6 separate regions of the Homo sapiens genome follow, and regions 2, 3, 4, 5 and 6 are each reported to be linked to region 1. The links are microRNA targets in miRTarBase. Many come from high-throughput screens and were not tested one by one. Region 1 holds a microRNA gene; each other region holds the end of a gene's coding sequence. Distances are from middle to middle.

Region 1 (3,098 bases):
GCGGGGCTTTTGCTGACCGCCGTGTCCCCCAGGGCGGCGCGACCGTGCCCCTGGAGGTGGTGCTGCTGCGCAAGGTGGGCGCGGCGGGCGGCGCGCGCGGCGTCATCCGCCTGCTGGACTGGTTCGAGCGGCCCGACGGCTTCCTGCTGGTGCTGGAGCGGCCCGAGCCGGCGCAGGACCTCTTCGACTTTATCACGGAGCGCGGCGCCCTGGACGAGCCGCTGGCGCGCCGCTTCTTCGCGCAGGTGCTGGCCGCCGTGCGCCACTGCCACAGCTGCGGGGTCGTGCACCGCGACATTAAGGACGAAAATCTGCTTGTGGACCTGCGCTCCGGAGAGCTCAAGCTCATCGACTTCGGTTCGGGTGCGCTGCTCAAGGACACGGTCTACACCGACTTCGACGGTGAGCGCGGGCGCGGGGCAGGGAACGTTCCGGGGGCCTTGCCGGCGGGTTAACGCCTGCAGGGGCGGCACATGGAGGGGCTGATGACTGTTGGGCGGCCGCGCGCCCTGGGTCTGCTCTCGTGGGGAGCAGAGGCCCACGCGCTACCCTGGGGAGGGCTGAGCGAGGGATCAAGAGCGGGATCGTGCTGGGTGGGGGCTAGGGGCGCGCTCAATATTGCTTCCTCCATCGCGTTGGGGGGTACGGGGCCTCTTGCCCCGGTGTGGGAGGCGCGTGACATCCTTCCGGCCCGAGAGACCCCCGGCTGGGGGCGGTAGCGGAGGAGTCTCCGTGCGTGACGCAGGGCGCAGCCGGGCTGGGTCTGCGCCGGGAGCCTGGAGGCCCCCGCGGCGCGGTTGGAGTGGCGGGGCCTCCCCTGCGTGGGGGCGGGAGCTGCGTGCGTGCGGAGCGCGGGGGCGCGGCGGCAGAAATCCCCGCATTGCGGAGCTTGGGGAAGCCGGGGCTCCCCGCCCGCCCCTCCCTCCTCCCTCCCTCTCTCCCCTCCCCCCGTTCCCGCAGGCAGGCGCGCCGGGCGGTAAGGGACCCGCGCTGTCCCCCCCCCACCCAGGTAGCCTCACAGCGCATCTGTTTGTTGTGAAAGCCGAGCTCTTACTCATGTGACCTGCTCCTCCCCCGCGGCCGGCGGAGGGGGACGGCCGGCCCCTCCCCCAGCCCCCCCATCGCCTGCCGGGGTTTTTCCAGGGTGATGACGAGCAGGATTTTGAGGCCTGGCTCTGCTTCCTGTTACTGAGGCCAGGGAGTTAACCAGCAGGGACCTCGCCGTCTGTTGAGCGGCTCTGCCTCTGTGGTGGGCGTGCTAAGCCCTGTGTCCCCTTAGGCACCCGAGTGTACAGCCCCCCGGAGTGGATCCGCTACCACCGCTACCACGGGCGCTCGGCCACCGTGTGGTCGCTGGGCGTGCTTCTCTACGATATGGTGTGTGGGGACATCCCCTTCGAGCAGGACGAGGAGATCCTCCGAGGCCGCCTGCTCTTCCGGAGGAGGGTCTCTCCAGGTGCGTGGTGGCTCGAGGCGGGGGTGGGGGCCTCGCCCTGCTTGGGCCCTCCCTGACCTCTCCGCTCCGCACAGAGTGCCAGCAGCTGATCCGGTGGTGCCTGTCCCTGCGGCCCTCAGAGCGGCCGTCGCTGGATCAGATTGCGGCCCATCCCTGGATGCTGGGGGCTGACGGGGGCGTCCCGGAGAGCTGTGACCTGCGGCTGTGCACCCTCGACCCTGATGACGTGGCCAGCACCACGTCCAGCAGCGAGAGCTTGTGAGGAGCTGCACCTGACTGGGAGCTAGGGGACCACCTGCCTTGGCCAGACCTGGGACGCCCCCAGACCCTGACTTTCTCCTGCGTGGGCCGTCTCCTCCTGCGGAAGCAGTGACCTCTGACCCCTGGTGACCTTCGCTTTGAGTGCCTTTTGAACGCTGGTCCCGCGGGACTTGGTTTTCTCAAGCTCTGTCTGTCCAAAGACGCTCCGGTCGAGGTCCCGCCTGCCCTGGGTGGATACTTGAACCCCAGACGCCCCTCTGTGCTGCTGTGTCCGGAGGCGGCCTTCCCATCTGCCTGCCCACCCGGAGCTCTTTCCGCCGGCGCAGGGTCCCAAGCCCACCTCCCGCCCTCAGTCCTGCGGTGTGCGTCTGGGCACGTCCTGCACACACAATGCAAGTCCTGGCCTCCGCGCCCGCCCGCCCACGCGAGCCGTACCCGCCGCCAACTCTGTTATTTATGGTGTGACCCCCTGGAGGTGCCCTCGGCCCACCGGGGCTATTTATTGTTTAATTTATTTGTTGAGGTTATTTCCTCTGAGCAGTCTGCCTCTCCCAAGCCCCAGGGGACAGTGGGGAGGCAGGGGAGGGGGTGGCTGTGGTCCAGGGACCCCAGGCCCTGATTCCTGTGCCTGGCGTCTGTCCCGGCCCCGCCTGTCAGAAGATGAACATGTATAGTGGCTAACTTAAGGGGAGTGGGTGACCCTGACACTTCCAGGCACTGTGCCCAGGGTTTGGGTTTTAAATTATTGACTTTGTACAGTCTGCTTGTGGGCTCTGAAAGCTGGGGTGGGGCCAGAGCCTGAGCGTTTAATTTATTCAGTACCTGTGTTTGTGTGAATGCGGTGTGTGCAGGCATCGCAGATGGGGGTTCTTTCAGTTCAAAAGTGAGATGTCTGGAGATCATATTTTTTTATACAGGTATTTCAATTAAAATGTTTTTGTACATAGTGGATAATCCTGTATTTATGGGGCTGGGCATCCTGGGGGAAGAGAGGGGCTCTGAGGAAGGGCTTTGGCTGCTGGGTGACCTGACAAGTTTCCCGTGGGGCTGGTAGTTTTGCCCACGGGGGAAACGGGGGAGGCCCAGCTGGGTGCCAGCCTCCCCAGTGCCACAGGCTACTTCATGTGGCTTGTGGCCCACCGCACTACCCCGTGCTGCACCCAGGGAGAAGAGCAGCTGCCTCCTGGGGTGCCTCTGGGAGGTGGAGGCAGGGAGCCAGGCCCTGAGGATGCAGCAACCCACACTAGTCAGGAGGTCATTCCTCGGTGGTCCCAGGAGGATCTCTGCAGCCCCCACCCAGGGAGGCCTTGCCAGTGGAAATGGCCATACTTGCATCCTGGCTTGGTGGAAACAGAGACGTGCGGGGGGGTGGGGGAGGGAG
Region 2 (3,098 bases), not on the chromosome of region 1:
CTACTAAAAATACAAAAATTAGCTGGGCGTGGCTGCGCACGCCTGTAATCCCAGCTACTCGGGAGGCTGAGGCTGCAGTGAGCCGAGATCGCGCCACTGCACTCCAGCCTGGGCGACAGAGCCAGACCCTGTCTCAAAAAAATGAAAAAAATAAAGTAGATGAGGCTGAGACAGTGCTGGGTTCAGTGGGCGGAGGGCACAGCTTCCTGTGCCTGGGGTTGGGGACATGGGGACAGGAGGGCATAGAGAAGACAGGTGCCAGCAGCCTCCTGCCCGACTTACTGCGGCTTCATGAGCACAAGCAGCAGCCCTGGTGAGCCGGCCTGGCCCCTCCCAGGATGGGTTAGGGTTTTATTTTATTTTGTGAGATGAGGTCTTGCTCTGTTGCCCAGGCTGGAGTGCAGTGGCGCAATCTCGGCTCACTGCAACCTCCATCTCCCAGGCTCAAGCACTTCTCCTGTCTCAGCCTCCCGAGTAGCTGGGACTACAGGCATGTGCCACCATGCCCGGCTAATTTTTGTACTCAGTAGAGATGGGGTTTCACCATGTTGGCCAGGCTGGTCTCGAACTCCTGACCTCAAGTGATCTGCCCACCTCACCCTCCAAAAGTGCTGGGATTACAGGTGTGAGCCACTGCACCTGCCGTGGTTTAGGGTTTTAACGTGGGCTTTCATTTCCAAGTGTTCCTGTATGAATTACAACCCAGTCTCCCCATGATAGGGAGTGTGAGTCCCCGTAGAACCAGAACAACCGTCGTCCTTACCAAGCACTACACATTAGCTTATTGCTGGCTGTGTGACCGGAGGAGTTCCCTGACCCTCTCTGTGCCTGTTTTCTTATTTTTAAACAGGAATAAAAATACAGGCCAGAGAGTCCGTGAAATGCTTACACGCATGCTAGAAGCTGGCTGTTTTTACTGGGGGCTCTAATTTTGTGTGTTTGGATTTCCTGGACCCCAGCTGACAGGAGTATTTTCTCCCGCAGGCCCATCAGTTACAAGTCCTGTCCCTTCTGACCTCCAGGCCCCACGGCTAGCATTACAGCCTGGAGTCAAAGTTCTGGGTGAGCTGTGTATCTTTGGCCAAATTCTTTGACCTCGTTGAGCCTCAGTTCCCTCATCTGTAAGGTAAGATGACGGCAGAACGTCACGGAGGAGCAGGGCAGGGCCCCGTTAACAGGCTGAGCCGGGCGCAGGTGAGCAGACAGCACTCGGCACAGGGCCTGTCTAGAGCCTGCAGTCACACCTCCTGCCCCTGTGGATCCTCTCCCTGGAGAACGAGAATACGGATCTGGGAAATGAGACCAAAGTACCCCCCAGGCCAGCAGGTGTGGCCAGAGGAGCTGATGGGCAGTAGTCTGTGCCGTCCGCATGCAGCCCTGACCATGGTGGCCAGGACCACGAAGCTGGTAGAGGCAGCCAGGGCTGCGTGGACAGAGCAGGCCTGGAGCCCTTGCCTGGTGGGCACCTGACTCTAAGCCAGGAGGCCTTTCCTCGTCCTGGAAGGCAGGTGGCCCCTCAAGCCCAGCTTCAACCTTGGGAGAACATGCCATGCTGGGTGAATCCTCAGCGCACATCCCAGACAGAAGACTGTGAGACCTCCTTTATTAGGCCAAGAGTGGCCATGTGCACAGATTTACAGAGCTGCTCCTCCCTGTGCCAGGACCGCCCAGCATCTTCAGGAGCCTCTGGGCCAGGGGCGAGTGAGGACAGCACCAGAATGTGGTAGGGCCAGGAGAGGCAGGACACATGTGGTTTGGACCCCAGGGAAAGGGAAAGGGCAAGGGCAGGGAGCAGCTTGGCACGGACCTTTTTTTTTTTCGAGACAGAGTCTCGCTCTGTCGCCCAGGCTGGAGTGCAGTGGTGCAATCTCGGCTCACTGCAACCTACACCTCCCGGGTTCAAGCGATTCTCCTGCCTCAGCCTCCCCTGTAGCTGGGATTACAGGTTCCTGCCACTATACCTGGCTAATTTTTGCATTTTCAGTAGAGACAACATTTCATCATGTTGGCCAGGCTGGTCTCAAACTCCTGACCTCAGGTGATCCTCCCTCCTCGGCCTCCCAAAGTGCTGGAATTACAGGCCTGAACCACCACGCCTGGCCAGACCTTTCAAACAGGTGGGGGTGCCTCCCAGGAGGACCCTGCCTACTCAGAGACTTCCCAGATGCCTCTGCTGCCTGAGTCCCCACAAAGGGAGAGCAGAGGCAAGCAGGGCACTCTGGTCCAGCTGGGAGCCAAGATACCCTGTCCCCACCTAGACGTCCACTGGGGAAGGGAAACTGCCGTTCGCATTCCTGGGGACGGAGAAGAGCATGGGAACATGGGATGCAGTCTGTGCCAGGATCTAGAACCTTCTGCTTTCTCTCTTCAGTGAGAAAACCCACCCTGTTCCCTCCCCTTCCTCCCTGGCAAGGAATCCTGAGAAGAAACAGCCTCCCCCAGGGAGGGTTTTGAAGTGCGCCTGAACCCAAATGAGCTCTGGGGCCAGGAAACAGTGTATATAAATATATAGACTGTGTGTATATATTATAAATGTATCTATATATGTATATATGTACATGCACAGCTCAGAGCGTCCTAGCCTGATACAGGGCCTGCCTGGTGCCTCCTGGAGGCCTGGCCACCTGGGGCTGTCACTTGAAGTCAAGAGTCCTGGTGTTAGGGATGTAGAGGGATTGGGTCTGGCGACTGCGTCGTGGCGTAGTGTTGAGGACGTCCACGCTCTTGCGGCTGGAACGCACCACGTCTGCCACAAAGCTGGTGCACTCACTGCAGACATCCTTCAGGACACAGCCGTGGGAGTAGATGTGGGGGAACGCCTCCTCCACGCTCTGCCACTGTGGCCCTTGCAGAGACCTGGGAAGTGGGAGAGGGCACTCAGGGAGAGGAGCCAGCCAGGGTGCCACACCCCCCTCCCTGCTTGTGCATGCCACAGCCCCCTCCTGGCTGCCTTTCACCCTAGGCCTCCCCTTGGCCCTCAGGCAACAAACACAGCTAGCAGTGTTCATCTCAGCAGACTGTTCCCTGACCACCCAAGTCCAGTTTCCATCTCATACTGCTCAGCCTCCCAGAGCCCTACACAACGATCCGTCTCTGCC
Region 3 (3,098 bases), 28 Mb from region 1:
CAGCGTTCTAGGAGGTCGCGGCCTCTGCAGACTCAGTGCAACCCCTGGGCCTTACAAAAGGGACACTCAGAGGTGCACTGCCTGCTCAGCTCACACAAGGAACAAGTGGAGAGCTGGGCTGGAGAAAGGATTACAATTTACAGACCAGTGTCCCTGGCTAGGGGCCCTCATGGGACTGTGGCTGGAAGAGAAGGTCGCCCCGGAGGTTGGAGGCTGAAGACACCTGGTGCTTCTTGGTGCAGTCCTGGTCAAGATGGAAGAGCGCTCCTCTGTGCCCAGCTGCTGTGCAGGGGTGGACGAGGGCTCCCTCGGCCCCAAGGCAAGGGCGGAGCAGCTCCCAGTGCTGGCACCAGACCTCTGCCAGGCACGGGGCATGGCCATCCTCTGGGGTCCTGGCTCAGGGGTGGGGAGCGGCAGTGCTGGGACAAGCCTGGGGAAAGGGTTTCCCATACACTGAGGCTGCGAGATCTTCCAGTGGAGCCTCAGGCTAGGGTATGAATCAGACCACCAGGTGATAGGAGCCAAACCTCCACATGGTGAAACTTCACTCTCGGCAGCCAGGAACAGAATTATTAGCAAAGAAAAGAGAAAAGCAGATGCCAATCATTCTCTCTCTTCGTCAAGGTTATGCCCACGGGCAGGGTGGGCTAGTGGTGAGGGTGGAGCTGCGTCCCTGACCCCCAGAAGGAGACAGCAGGCCTTCAAGTTAAGCCAAGCAATACTTGGTCATTGTTTGTGGCCAACCATTCTCTGAATGTCTGAATGACAGCGACTATGTTTAAGGTTTTTTTTTGTAAATAAGAGACCTTAAGCAATGCATTGACTGCATGGTCTCAACCTCATCTGTGCTGTGAGAATGAGGGGTAAGGCTGGGCATGCAGGTAGGGCCCCAGCAAAGCTGGCTCCCCGCTCCCTGTGGGACAGAGGGCTCCCACCGGGAAGGCGGCTCTAGCGTGCCTCCTCGGCGAGCTGAGAGGAGGCCAAGGTGCTTGGGGCACAGCTGTGCAAACCTTCCTGGGGCTCTCGCTGTCTGCAGGTGGACTCTGAATGCCTTCATGGGGACCACACAGCCCAGCTTCCTCCCTTTCTCCTCTCCTCCCCCTGCACTGCTCTGACCTGCCTGGAGCAGCCCTGCCCACCTCCAGCTCAGCCCTTCCTGTGGCTTGGCCCTGCAGATGGCCTCTGAGTCCTCCCCTAGCCCCCTGCCCTCTTCCCTCTACCCGACACCCTCCCCCAGCCTTGCCACTTTCAACTTTGCACGCCCTCAGTGAGCTCCCTGAGGCACCCAGGATCGGTCACTTGTGAGCCCCCTCTCAGGGTGCACTAGGGGACGTGGAGCTCTCATGCCTGTTCAGGGCATGGGGCAGAGCAAGGCAGGCGTGCTGCCAGCCACCGCGGCAAGGTGAGGGGCTGTGGCCTGTGCCATGGACTCCCAGCAGCATCCCTGCTGCCTCCAGACTGAGACAGAGACCCACGGGCTGCCTCTGTGCTTGCCTGAGCCTCTTAATTAAGAGTCTTTCCCAATGAGACCAATTTGATTACAAATTCACAAGATATTTGGGAATGTTCCAATCACACAGCAGCAAGGTCCCTCTGCCTGGGATCCAGCCAGGCCCAAGGGGGTGGGAATGCAGGCAGATGGGCCAAGGTCACCCGGGATGCCCAGAGCCCCGCTGTCGGGCCCAGGCACCACTACGTGGCAGTCGCAGCTCCTGCCAGTCACCTGGGCAGCGGGGGGAGGGGAGAACCTTGGGGGTGTTCAGCATCACAAAGAGGCGGAAAACTCTTCCAGAAAGATCTCACCAAAATCATGCCTCCCTAACAAAACAAATCCTGCTTTTCTAAAAACCTCAATGGGCCTATCCGAGCCCACTGCAGTCCTAGTTTCTTCAAAGCTGTGTAAGGCACTTGAATGGCTTATTAACACCACCTGGAAAAGTTCCTGTTTCAATCCTGATTTAGAAAATAAATTCAATAATACTGCAAAAAAAGGTTCCTTGAAAAATAGCTTTAAAAAAGTAAATACTTAAGTTTTCTAAAGAATAAAATAAATGCTAAGCTCTGCTTAAATTATATGACACAACAGGTCATCTTGGCACTGATAAAACAAAGAGAAAACCTGGAATACTGCTTCGGAATTAGACCTCCCTGGAAAAAAACAAACACACCAACAAAAGACACATGTGCGTCGCCGGTTCCGGGCTCAGGGAAGAGAGCAGCCCGGAAGGCCCTGGTGGGCCCAAGCACATCATGGCTGCCCTGGAGTGGGGGCAGGGGGGTGGCTGCTACAGAACAGACCCCTGGCTCTGCTGCGCTCTCCTCTTTGGGACACTGGTGTGGCCGACCAGGACTGGCTGGGCATATCTGTAAATATGAACCCACCTGGCCCTGGCCGCAGAGAGGAGCAATGGGAAACTGGGGCTGGCCACTCCGCTGCTGGGCCTGACCCAGGGGGTGCTTCAAGAGTTTGGCTCCTGGGTCCGCCCCAGGGTCCCACGTGCACAACCATGCTGCCCCATGCACACCAGTGTCTTTGGTTTGGCTGCCGTTGGGCACCTATGACCTCTGGTCCCACCCCGGGCCTAATAGGAGCTGGGAGCAAGAGCCGGTCCATCTTCTCTTTGGTGAGGTCTCCTAAGCTGCCTTCCACCATCTGCCCGCCACCCAGTGCAGTTCCACAGCCACCAGGACGGGCTGCGGGGGGTGTCCCGACTGGCTCTGGGGTGCTGGGGAAAGCACTGTGGGGCGGGCACCCTGTCCACTGCCTGCCACCTGTTGGGTCCTGAGGCTTCTGAGGGAGAGAAGGACAAGGATGGGAGGAAGGGGAGGGCAGGGGCCTGGAAACCACCTAGCTTCTTGGTGGAGCCTGGGTCTCAGGTTCTGGAAGGCTGGAGGGCAAGTCCTGCCTCCTCCCTTCTGCCTGGGGGTCCCCTTCTCCCTGGTTCCCGCCCTCCAGCAGCTCTTGGGGGTCCCTGAGGAAGACCACCATGACCGTGATGTTGTCGTGGGAGCCCCGCTCCCGGGCCGCAGCCACCAGCTCCTCGGCGACACGGAGCCCGCTGCCCTGCTGCCTGGTCAGGTGGCTCTGGACCAGGCCA
Region 4 (3,098 bases), not on the chromosome of region 1:
CTCTCCTCCCAATGGGAAATACCAGCCCCTCCCACCCCCATAGATCTCCTTCACGTTCCTCCATTCCCCTACTGACACTCGGTTTTCTTTTGCCCCACAGGACGAGGAAGAGTGGGACACGGGGTGCCTGATGGCATCCCTGATGTGGTGGTGGAGATGGCCGAGGCAGACCTGCGGGCCCTGCTATGCAGAGAGCTGCGGCCCCTGGGGGCCTACATGAGTGGACGGCTGAAGGTGAAGGGCGACCTGGCTATGGCCATGAAGCTGGAGGCTGTCCTCAGGGCCTTGAAGTAGCAGCCTTGGCTGACTTTCCAGAGCCCAGTCCCAAGCCTGGCACCAAGCCTGAGGGGCCTCTTGGAGGAGGAGGTGTTCATCTGCACCACAGAGAGTTGAGGCCCTAACAAATTTCAGGCCCAGCCAAGAGCCCATGAATGGAGGCTGCAGGAGGCTGAGTCCGGCTGCCATGCACGTCTCCCCTACAGTGGTTCTCTGGACAAGGCTTTGTCCATCCCGGTCCCCAGCTGAGTGCCCAGCGCTGAGCTGGGTGCACGGTGTGATTCCAGGAGGAGAGCCAGGCCTGCCCTGCCCTGCTGGCTTCCTGACTGGAGAGACAGGACCCACAGAAACAGCCTGACAGCAGCTGGTTTGGTCCTTGTGTGAGGGACCAAGCATGTGGCCCAGGCTCTAAGCTCTGCGGGGATTGGAGAGGGATGGGGAGGGAAGGGAAGGCAGCTCCAAGAAGAGGTCCCTGTGGCGAAGTTACCTGGGGATCCTGGCTGGCCCACCTTCCTGGCTGCAGTCCAGGCCCGTGCTGGCGGGATTGGGCATGGGAAGGAGCAGGGCCTGCTGCTTCCCTGGCGCTGCTCCCAAAGATTTCTGACTCATCTGCCAGCTCTGTCCTGCATGCCTGGCGAGCTGGGGCCCAGGGCAGCATGAAGGAGAGCCCTGCGTTCTGTGCTTCTTACCAGAGGTTTGCAAGCCTCAGACAAATAAATGTGGTGTTTACAATGTATAAAAGAGAAGAAGCCAAGCGGGGCTCCTGGGGGCATGGGGTGGGCTAGGAGGGTCCACAAGGTCCATGCTGCCAGCCCAGGCAGGGATTGACATCCTGGTGGCTGACACAGACAGACCCTCACAATATTTGAAGCTCCTTCTCCTGAGTGTCTCAAAGCCCCTGGAAGCAAGGGTGGGGCTGGGTGGGGAGTTCTGTTCCTCTTTGTAGTGGGATACAGGTTCACCAGGAAAGGAAGGCATGAGTGTGCCAGAGTGTCCTGCAAACACTGAGGGGCAGGTGGGGTGGTCATATCCCATTCAAGAGAGGAGTTGGGGCCACCGTCAGCTTCCCCTCCTGGTACACTCTGTCACTGCTTCTCCGCTCGCTGACGGGAAGGAAACAGTCATTGAGGTCTGGCCCCAGGCCCAGCCCAGCCCTGCTTTCTGCTCCAGTACTCTCGCCCAAACCCCAGGGGCCCCAGAGAAGGGGGCCTCTGACTTCTTGAGTCCTAAGAAAGGAATCTTACTCCTTGGAGAGACTTCTGGGAAAAACAAAACCACAAAAATCAAAGCCTCCCCTTAAGAACAGCCCCCAGCCTGTCCTGTGGCACCGCAACTTCCCTCTCCCCCAAGGGGTCTCTGCCCTTCCTGGGTGCCTGGCTCTGTCTTGTTTGCTGTCTGTCCCTGCCTTTGCCAGACACTGCCTTGTCCCGCCTCCTGGAGGTCCTCCACATTGCCTGAGGCACCTCCCTAAAGCCCAGCACAGACCCCTCTGTCACTGCCATGGCCATTGAGGTTCAGGTTTCCAGGGCCCCTTCCTAGAGTCCCAGGCTGCTGCACCTGCTGTTGCCCCTTTGCCTACTTGGAGGCCTCTCATGGGCCCTCCCAGGGCTTTCTAGCTGAGGCTGTCTGTTCCAAAGCCTGCCCTCCAATCCCCGCAGCCACACTGTGGCCACCCTTTGAGGCCCAGTGAGACTTGTCCTCTGTGCCCTTGCCTGGCTCTCTGCACCCATTCCACATTGTGTGTTTCTGCTCCTTGCATATATGGCTGCCCTCCCTGCTGGACTGGGAGCTTCCTGCATCAGCATTCACCTGTGGATTCCTTCCATTGCTATTACACAGTATATGAAGGGCTGCCCAGGAAACCCCAGGCATCTTCACCATGAAAGCTGGCACGGCCCCTTGGCTGGGGTAGGGCTGGAGGGTAGGGAAGACAGGAAAAATGAGATCACAACTTAGGGGAAACCCAAACTCTTCTTTGTGAGCATGGGAAGATCAACATAACGTTTAGGGGAAACCGAAACTTTTCTGGATGTCTGTGTAGGTGGAGAGTAAGGCCTGCCCCTGCCATGAATCCCCACCCTGTGGAGGGGAGCTCGATCCTTGGCCAGCACTCCAGGACTACAGAGGACTGAGCAGACCCTGCAGTCCACAGGGGAGGAAGGACAAGGGCCACCTAAAGGGTCGGTGTGAAGAGGGAGGAGGAGGGTGTGTGTCAATCAGAGAAGGCTTTCCTGAGGAGGTGATGTCCTCCACATCCCAGCTACCAAGTAGGTGGACAATAAGAAGAGATGGGGAAAATCATTCAGCAGAGGAGAAGTCCCTGCAAGGGCACAGCTGGAAGAGGCAGTCAGGCAACTGGGCTTCGGGGAACTAGAACCTGAAGTACCAGACAGGTTGTGTGCGGGCATTTGAGGGGCAGGGTATAGAAATAGTAACCATTACTGTGTGCCAAATATGTCCTTATACCGGACTAGACACTTCTTATTATATTTTTCTTCAAGATAACCTGGTGAATAATGATAATAGTTTAAGTATCCTAGTTAATATATTAATATATAATGTGTTATTTTGATGTTATTGAAAAGTATTTTATTTTTTTTTGAAACAAGAGTCTTACTCTGTTGCCCATGTTAGAGTACAGTACAATCTCAGCTCACTGCAACCTCTACCTCCCGGATTCAAGTGATTCTCCTGCCTCAGACACCTGAGTAGCCAGGATTATAGGCGCATACCACCACACCTGGTTAATTTTTGTATTTTTAGTAGAGATGGGATTTCACCATGTTGACCAGGCTGGTCTCGAACTCCTGACCTCAAGTGAT
Region 5 (3,098 bases), not on the chromosome of region 1:
TCTTGCTCTGTCACCCAGGCTGGAGTGCAGTGGCACAATCTCGGCTCACTGCAAGCTCCGCCCCCTGGGTTCACCACATTCTCCTGCCTCAGCCTCCAGAGTAGCTAGGATTACAGGCGCCCGCCACCATGCCCTGCTAATTTTTTGTATTTTTAGTAGAGATGGGGTTTCACCATATTAGCCAGGATGGTCTCGATCTCCTGACCTCATGATCCGCCCACCTCGGCCTCCCAAAGTGCTAGGATTACAGGCATGAAGCCACCGTGCCTGGCCCCATATTCATTCTCAAAGGTCACCACTGTTCTGATTTCCCACCATAGGCCAGTTGAGCATGTTCTAGCCCTCCTCTAAATGGAACTATACAGTATTTACCGTCTCTGGCTTCTTTATCTCAACAAATTATCTGAAATGCATTTCTGTTGCAGTGTAGGTCGATATCGCTCTTATTTATTGCTGAGTAATCTTCCATTGTATGAATGTACCAGTGTATCCAATTGATTTGTTCCCAAATTTTGGCAATGATGAGTACAGCAGCTAAACGTTTGTGGACACATTTTTGTAAAAGCAAAAGTTTTCACTTCTCTTGGGTAAATACCCAGGAGTGCAACTCCTAAGCTGCATAGTAAATAAATATATATTATATATATATATATTTTTTTTTTTTTTTGAGACAGAGTTTTGCTTTTGTCACCCAGACTGGAGTGCAATGGTGAGATCTTGGCTCACTGCAACATTCTGCCTCCTGGGTTCAAGCGATTCTCCTGCCTCAGCCTCCCAAGTAGCTGGGACTACAGGCATGTGCCACCACGCCCGGCTAATTTTTGTATTTTTAGTGGAGACGGGGTTTCACCATGTTGGCCAGGCTGGTCTCGAACTCCTGACCTCAGGTGATCCATCCACCTCGGCCTCCCAAAGTGTTGGGATTACAGGCGTGAGCCACTGCACCCAGCCTGTATTTTTTAACTTTATTAAGAAACTGCCCAGTTATTTTCCAAAACAACTCAGCCATCTACTAAGGGAGCACCAACCAAGAGATGAGGAGTCCTGTTGTATCCCATCCTCCCTTGGTCTTGTATTCAGCCATTCTACTGTGTATAGTGGTGTCTCATTGTGGTTTCCCGTGGTGTTTAAGAGACAGGGTCTGGCTGGGCGTGGTGGCTCACGCCTGTAATACCAGCACTTTGGGAGGCCAAGGTGGGTGGATCACTTGAGGCACCGGTCTCTACTAAAAATACAAAAATTAGCTGGGCATGGTGGCAGATACCTGTAGTCCCAGCTACTTCGGAGGCTGAGGCAGGAGAATCGCTTGAACCTGGGAGGCGGAGGTTGCAGTGAGCCAAGATCGTGCCACTGCACTGCACTCCAGCCCAGACAACAGAGCCAGACTCCGTTTCAAAAAAAAAAAAAAAAAAAAGCGACAGGGTCTCACTCTGTTGCCCAGGCTGGAGTGCAGTGGCATGATCATGGGTCACTGCATCCTTAAACTCCTGGGCTCAAGGAATCCTCCCCACCGCAGACTTCTGAGTAGCTGGGACTGCAGGTGTGCACCACTGCACCTGCCTAATTTTTTGTGTTGTTTTTGAGACAGAGTTTTGCTCTTTCACCCGGGCTAGAGTGCAGTGGTGCGATCTCGGCTCACTGCAACCTCTGCCTCCCGGGTTCAAGCAATTCTCCTACCTCAGCCTCCTGAGTAGCTGGGACTACAGGCGCCCACCACCATGTCTGGCTAATTTTTATATTTTTAGTAGAGACAGGGTTTCACCATGTTGGCCAGGCTGATCTTGAACTCCTGACCTCGTGATTCGCCCGCCTCGGCCTCCCAAAGTGCTGGGATTACAGGTGTGAGCCACCGTGCTCGGCCTTAATTTTTGTATTTTTTTGTAGAGACGATGTCTCACTATGTTGCCCAGGCTTGTCTTGAACTCCTGGCCTGGAGTGATCTCAAAGTGCTGGGATTACAGGTGTGAGCCCCCATGCCCAGCCCAGTGGTGTTTCTTGATGAGCAGATACTGTCATTGCAGTGGCCAGTGCTTTAAGTCAAATTCTCAAGAACACCTGATTAAATAGTTGACACTCAATTTTATTGCTAAAAAAAATGTCCTCTGGAGTGACAGCAGGTATTTGTCCTCAGCCTCTCCCCAGAGTCCCTGGGAGTGTTTCTGTTATTGTGGAGGGAATAGGGGATCTGGGGACAGGGTGGGACGTACCATGGGGACAGGAGGTCACAGAACACACACACACACACACACACACACACACACACACACGTGCACACACACATCCCCCCACAACTACAGCCGCCAAAATAACCAGCATGGTGTTGTAACATCCCCCCAGTGGGGGCTAGAATTCCCCATGGTGACCTGTGACCTGCTCCCTGAGACAGGGGAGGCCAGGCAGGTCACGGTGGGGACGCAGCAGAACATTATTTCTCCATCTTGCTGTTTTCTAGCCTTGAGTTGGGGACATGAGTGAGAACTGGGGGTTTTGAGGAGTAACCCTTGTGAACACATGTACTCCAGCAGCCAGGCATCCCAGATCTCCTGTCCTGGAGGGTGCTGGGGCCCCTGGCTCCCCAGAGTGTGCAGGCAGACCCCCAGAGCCCTAGCTCATCCATTTATCCATTCCTCATAATCCAGTGTCCAAAGAGCACCCCCAGCAGGGCAGGGAAGGTCCCTCCCGGGGTTTACATGACTGATTCCTTCTCAGAGGCGACCGTGGCATCCCCTGCGGGCCCCCGATAGTGTTTGAGGAGGGGGTTTCCTTCCTCAGTGGGGACTGGCAGCGGATCCAGGGGCAGCTCACTCTTCACTTGTATCAACTCAGGCTCTGTGCTTCTCGACTCCGTACGGTCCACGTAATTTTGGAGGAGTCCTGCCCCCAGAGCGTCACCTTCTACATTGAGGACGGTACAGGACCGGTCGCTAAAGGGGTAGAAATGACAGCAAAGTAAGCGGGAGGGGAGAGGGTGAGAGGGAAGGAAAGGGCCAAGGCCTAAGCCTCCTGCCTCTCTCCCCCTGGAATCTAAAAAGTAAAAATTAAGAGTTGGAGTCAGCCTGGGCAACATAGTGAGATCCCATCTTTATATATATTTAAAA
Region 6 (3,098 bases), not on the chromosome of region 1:
TCGCGTGTGTGGCTTACGCCACCGAAGTGGCCTGGACCCGGGCCCGGCCCGGCGAGATCACTGGCTATATGGCCACCGTACCCGGGCTGCTGAAGGTGCTGGAGACCTTCGTTGCCTGCATCATCTTCGCGTTCATCAGCGACCCCAACCTGTACCAGCACCAGCCGGCCCTGGAGTGGTGCGTGGCGGTGTACGCCATCTGCTTCATCCTAGCGGCCATCGCCATCCTGCTGAACCTGGGGGAGTGCACCAACGTGCTACCCATCCCCTTCCCCAGCTTCCTGTCGGGGCTGGCCTTGCTGTCTGTCCTCCTCTATGCCACCGCCCTTGTTCTCTGGCCCCTCTACCAGTTCGATGAGAAGTATGGCGGCCAGCCTCGGCGCTCGAGAGATGTAAGCTGCAGCCGCAGCCATGCCTACTACGTGTGTGCCTGGGACCGCCGACTGGCTGTGGCCATCCTGACGGCCATCAACCTACTGGCGTATGTGGCTGACCTGGTGCACTCTGCCCACCTGGTTTTTGTCAAGGTCTAAGACTCTCCCAAGAGGCTCCCGTTCCCTCTCCAACCTCTTTGTTCTTCTTGCCCGAGTTTTCTTTATGGAGTACTTCTTTCCTCCGCCTTTCCTCTGTTTTCCTCTTCCTGTCTCCCCTCCCTCCCACCTTTTTCTTTCCTTCCCAATTCCTTGCACTCTAACCAGTTCTTGGATGCATCTTCTTCCTTCCCTTTCCTCTTGCTGTTTCCTTCCTGTGTTGTTTTGTTGCCCACATCCTGTTTTCACCCCTGAGCTGTTTCTCTTTTTCTTTTCTTTTTTTTTTTTTTTTTTTTTTAAGACGGATTCTCACTCTGTGGCCCAGGCTGGAGTGCAGTGGTGCGATCTCGACTCACTGCAACCCCCGCCTCCTGGGTTCAAGCGATTCTCCTGCCCCAGCCTCCCAAGTAGCTGGGAGGACAGGTGTGAGCTGCCGCACCCAGCCTGTTTCTCTTTTTCCACTCTTCTTTTTTCTCATCTCTTTTCTGGGTTGCCTGTCGGCTTTCTTATCTGCCTGTTTTGCAAGCACCTTCTCCTGTGTCCTTGGGAGCCCTGAGACTTCTTTCTCTCCTTGCCTCCACCCACCTCCAAAGGTGCTGAGCTCACATCCACACCCCTTGCAGCCGTCCATGCCACAGCCCCCCAAGGGGCCCCATTGCCAAAGCATGCCTGCCCACCCTCGCTGTGCCTTAGTCAGTGTGTACGTGTGTGTGTGTGTGTGTGTGTGTGTGTGTGTTTGGGGGGTGGGGGGTGGGTAGCTGGGGATTGGGCCCTCTTTCTCCCAGTGGAGGAAGGTGTGCAGTGTACTTCCCCTTTAAATTAAAAAACATATATATATATATATTTGGAGGTCAGTAATTTCCAATGGGCGGGAGGCTTTAAGCACCGACCCTGGGTCCCTAGGCCCCGCCTGGCACTCAGCCTTGCCAGAGATTGGCTCCAGAATTTTTGCCAGGCTTACAGAACACCCACTGCCTAGAGGCCATCTTAAAGGAAGCAGGGGCTGGATGCCTTTCATCCCAACTATTCTCTGTGGTATCAAAAAGAAAAAAAAAAAAAAAGAAGGAGTCGGGGCCGGGCGTGGTGGCTCACGCCTGTAATCCCAGCACTTTGGGAGACCAAGTCAGGCAATCATCTGAAGTCAGGAGTTCAAGACCAGCCTGGCCAACATGGTGAAAGCATGTCTCTATTAAAAATACAAAAATTAGCCGGGCGTGGTGGCGGGCGCCTGTAATCCCAGGTATTTGGGGGGACTGAGACAGGAGAATCCCTTCAACCCGGGAGGTGGAGGTTGCAGTAAGTCAAGATGGCACCACTGTGCTCCAGCCTGGGGGACAGAGCGAGACTCCATCTCAAAAAAAAAAAGGAATCGGACGAAGAACCACAGGATGTTGAAGACAACTGTCTGAAGTATTTGTGAGGGACAGCGATGTGGCCCTCTGTGTTAAGAATAACGTGTCCTGCTTTGGCAGAGAGAAGAAAATAGCCACTGCCCGCTTTCAAGGCAAGATCGACCTTTTCTGTTTTGTTTTGTTTTTCTTTCTTTTTCCTGGCCATGAGGACAAAAATTACTGAGTGGCCCTTAAAGAGGGAAGTTTGTTTTCAGCTGTTCTCTTTTGCCCGTAGGTGGGAGGGTGGGGATTGCTGCGTCCTAGCTAGAGGAATGGCTTTGCTTGAATGTGTAGTGCACACGCACGGGTGTTTCTGTGTGCTAGTTGCTTCTTGCTGCTGCTTCCTGCTTGTCTGGGACTCACATACATAACGTGATATATATATATATATATATAAATGTATAAATATATATTTTATTTTTTTTTAAATCCCTGGAGCTTCTGGTTCCTATCAGTTCCTGTTGTTAATCGTAGAACCGTTGTCCCTTCCCCCATTCCCGTATCCATCATGTTCTTTTTCTTTTAAATATCAATATAAAGGTAAAAGAAGGACTTGTGCTTTCTTAATGAGGAGGGCGGCCGAGCACGGCGGGCGGATCACTTGAGGTCAGGAGTTTGAGACCAGCCTGGCCAACATGGTGAAACCCCGTCTCTACAAAAAAATAAAAAAGAAAAGCGGGGGAGGACTCTCGGAGAGGGGCAAGGGCCAGATTCTTGGGTCTAGTGGGAGAATAGGGTTGGTGCCAAGACAACCTTGGCCTCATCAGAAGATACTAGCTGGATCTAGGTCTTCTAAATGACTTCCTCAAACCAGGAGGGCTGGGTGGGATAGAAATGAACTAGACTTCTCCCTCCTTGGAGTCTGTCCCCTGAGCACCTCACAAATACAACGTCCTAATTTGAGTGAAGGAGCTTTCCTCCCCAGTCACCTCGTCCTCCCAGGTCCCCCCATTTCAGTAATAGCCTCTCAGAGCTGAGAACCCAAGCACATGGTGGTACCTTCCCCCCGTCTACTCAAGTCAGTCCCTCATCAAACACTGTCTATTCTTCCCCCTAAATACCATTTCTACCGCCCTCTTCTCCAGGTTCCTGGTCCAGCTCAAGTTCCATTTTGTTTCACCTGAGCTATTGCCCCAGCCTCCTTCTCCTCCATCCCACCCTGGCTCCAGAGGGATTC

The links. The annotated mature microRNA hsa-miR-6821-3p reads UGACCUCUCCGCUCCGCACAG and lies in region 1 at 1,510-1,530, shown strand. An mRNA with a match to its seed (bases 2 to 7 or 8) in the 3' UTR can be bound and repressed. Matches are read on the target gene's strand: a 7mer-m8 pairs with bases 2 to 8, a 7mer-A1 pairs with bases 2 to 7 and ends in A, and an 8mer does both.
Region 2: miRTarBase lists SPIRE2 as a target of hsa-miR-6821-3p. Seed matches in the 3' UTR shown: 7mer-A1 at 2,030-2,036.
Region 3: the mRNA of PPM1F is a reported target of hsa-miR-6821-3p. Seed matches in the 3' UTR shown: 8mer at 2,560-2,567 and 7mer-m8 at 353-359.
Region 4: the mRNA of STOML1 is a reported target of hsa-miR-6821-3p. Seed matches in the 3' UTR shown: 7mer-m8 at 741-747.
Region 5: miRTarBase lists SLC1A5 as a target of hsa-miR-6821-3p. The part of its 3' UTR that is shown has no 7-base or 8-base seed match.
Region 6: miRTarBase lists MYADM as a target of hsa-miR-6821-3p. Seed matches in the 3' UTR shown: 7mer-A1 at 1,378-1,384.

The regions. Positions count from the first base shown.
Region 1 is chr22:49,961,410-49,964,507 of GRCh38, forward strand. It overlaps MIR6821 (microRNA 6821), which reads left to right and starts at 1,457; the gene lies at 1,457-1,530. It overlaps PIM3 (Pim-3 proto-oncogene, serine/threonine kinase), which reads left to right. Exons shown (of 6, transcript NM_001001852.4): 4 at 33-402; 5 at 1,280-1,456; 6 at 1,531-2,663. The coding sequence ends at 1,718. RefSeq lists silencers at 526-575, 706-1,225.
Region 2 is chr16:89,869,808-89,872,905 of GRCh38, reverse strand. It overlaps SPIRE2 (spire type actin nucleation factor 2), which reads right to left. Exons shown (of 15, transcript NM_032451.2): 15 at 1,587-2,856. The coding sequence ends at 2,634. It overlaps LOC112268179 (a long non-coding RNA gene), which reads left to right. Exons shown (of 2, transcript XR_002957933.2): 2 at 985-2,529. Among named protein-coding and RNA genes, the nearest start is that of TCF25, 2.2 kb to the left of the region's middle. RefSeq lists an enhancer at 1-556.
Region 3 is chr22:21,920,244-21,923,341 of GRCh38, forward strand. It overlaps PPM1F (protein phosphatase, Mg2+/Mn2+ dependent 1F), which reads right to left. Exons shown (of 8, transcript NM_014634.4): 8 at 1-3,098. The coding sequence ends at 2,849. Among named protein-coding and RNA genes, the nearest start is that of PPM1F-AS1, 16 kb to the right of the region's middle. RefSeq lists enhancers at 1-319, 981-1,639.
Region 4 is chr15:73,981,133-73,984,230 of GRCh38, reverse strand. STOML1 (stomatin like 1) reads left to right here. Exons shown (of 7, transcript NM_004809.5): 7 at 101-3,098. The coding sequence ends at 294. Among named protein-coding and RNA genes, the nearest start is that of STOML1, 9.6 kb to the left of the region's middle. RefSeq lists an enhancer at 2,210-2,399.
Region 5 is chr19:46,772,824-46,775,921 of GRCh38, forward strand. SLC1A5 (solute carrier family 1 member 5) reads right to left here. Exons shown (of 8, transcript NM_005628.3): 8 at 2,060-2,924. The coding sequence ends at 2,687. Among named protein-coding and RNA genes, the nearest start is that of SLC1A5, 14 kb to the right of the region's middle.
Region 6 is chr19:53,873,966-53,877,063 of GRCh38, forward strand. It overlaps MYADM (myeloid associated differentiation marker), which reads left to right. Exons shown (of 3, transcript NM_138373.5): 3 at 1-2,470. The coding sequence ends at 533. Among named protein-coding and RNA genes, the nearest start is that of MYADM-AS1, 6.4 kb to the left of the region's middle.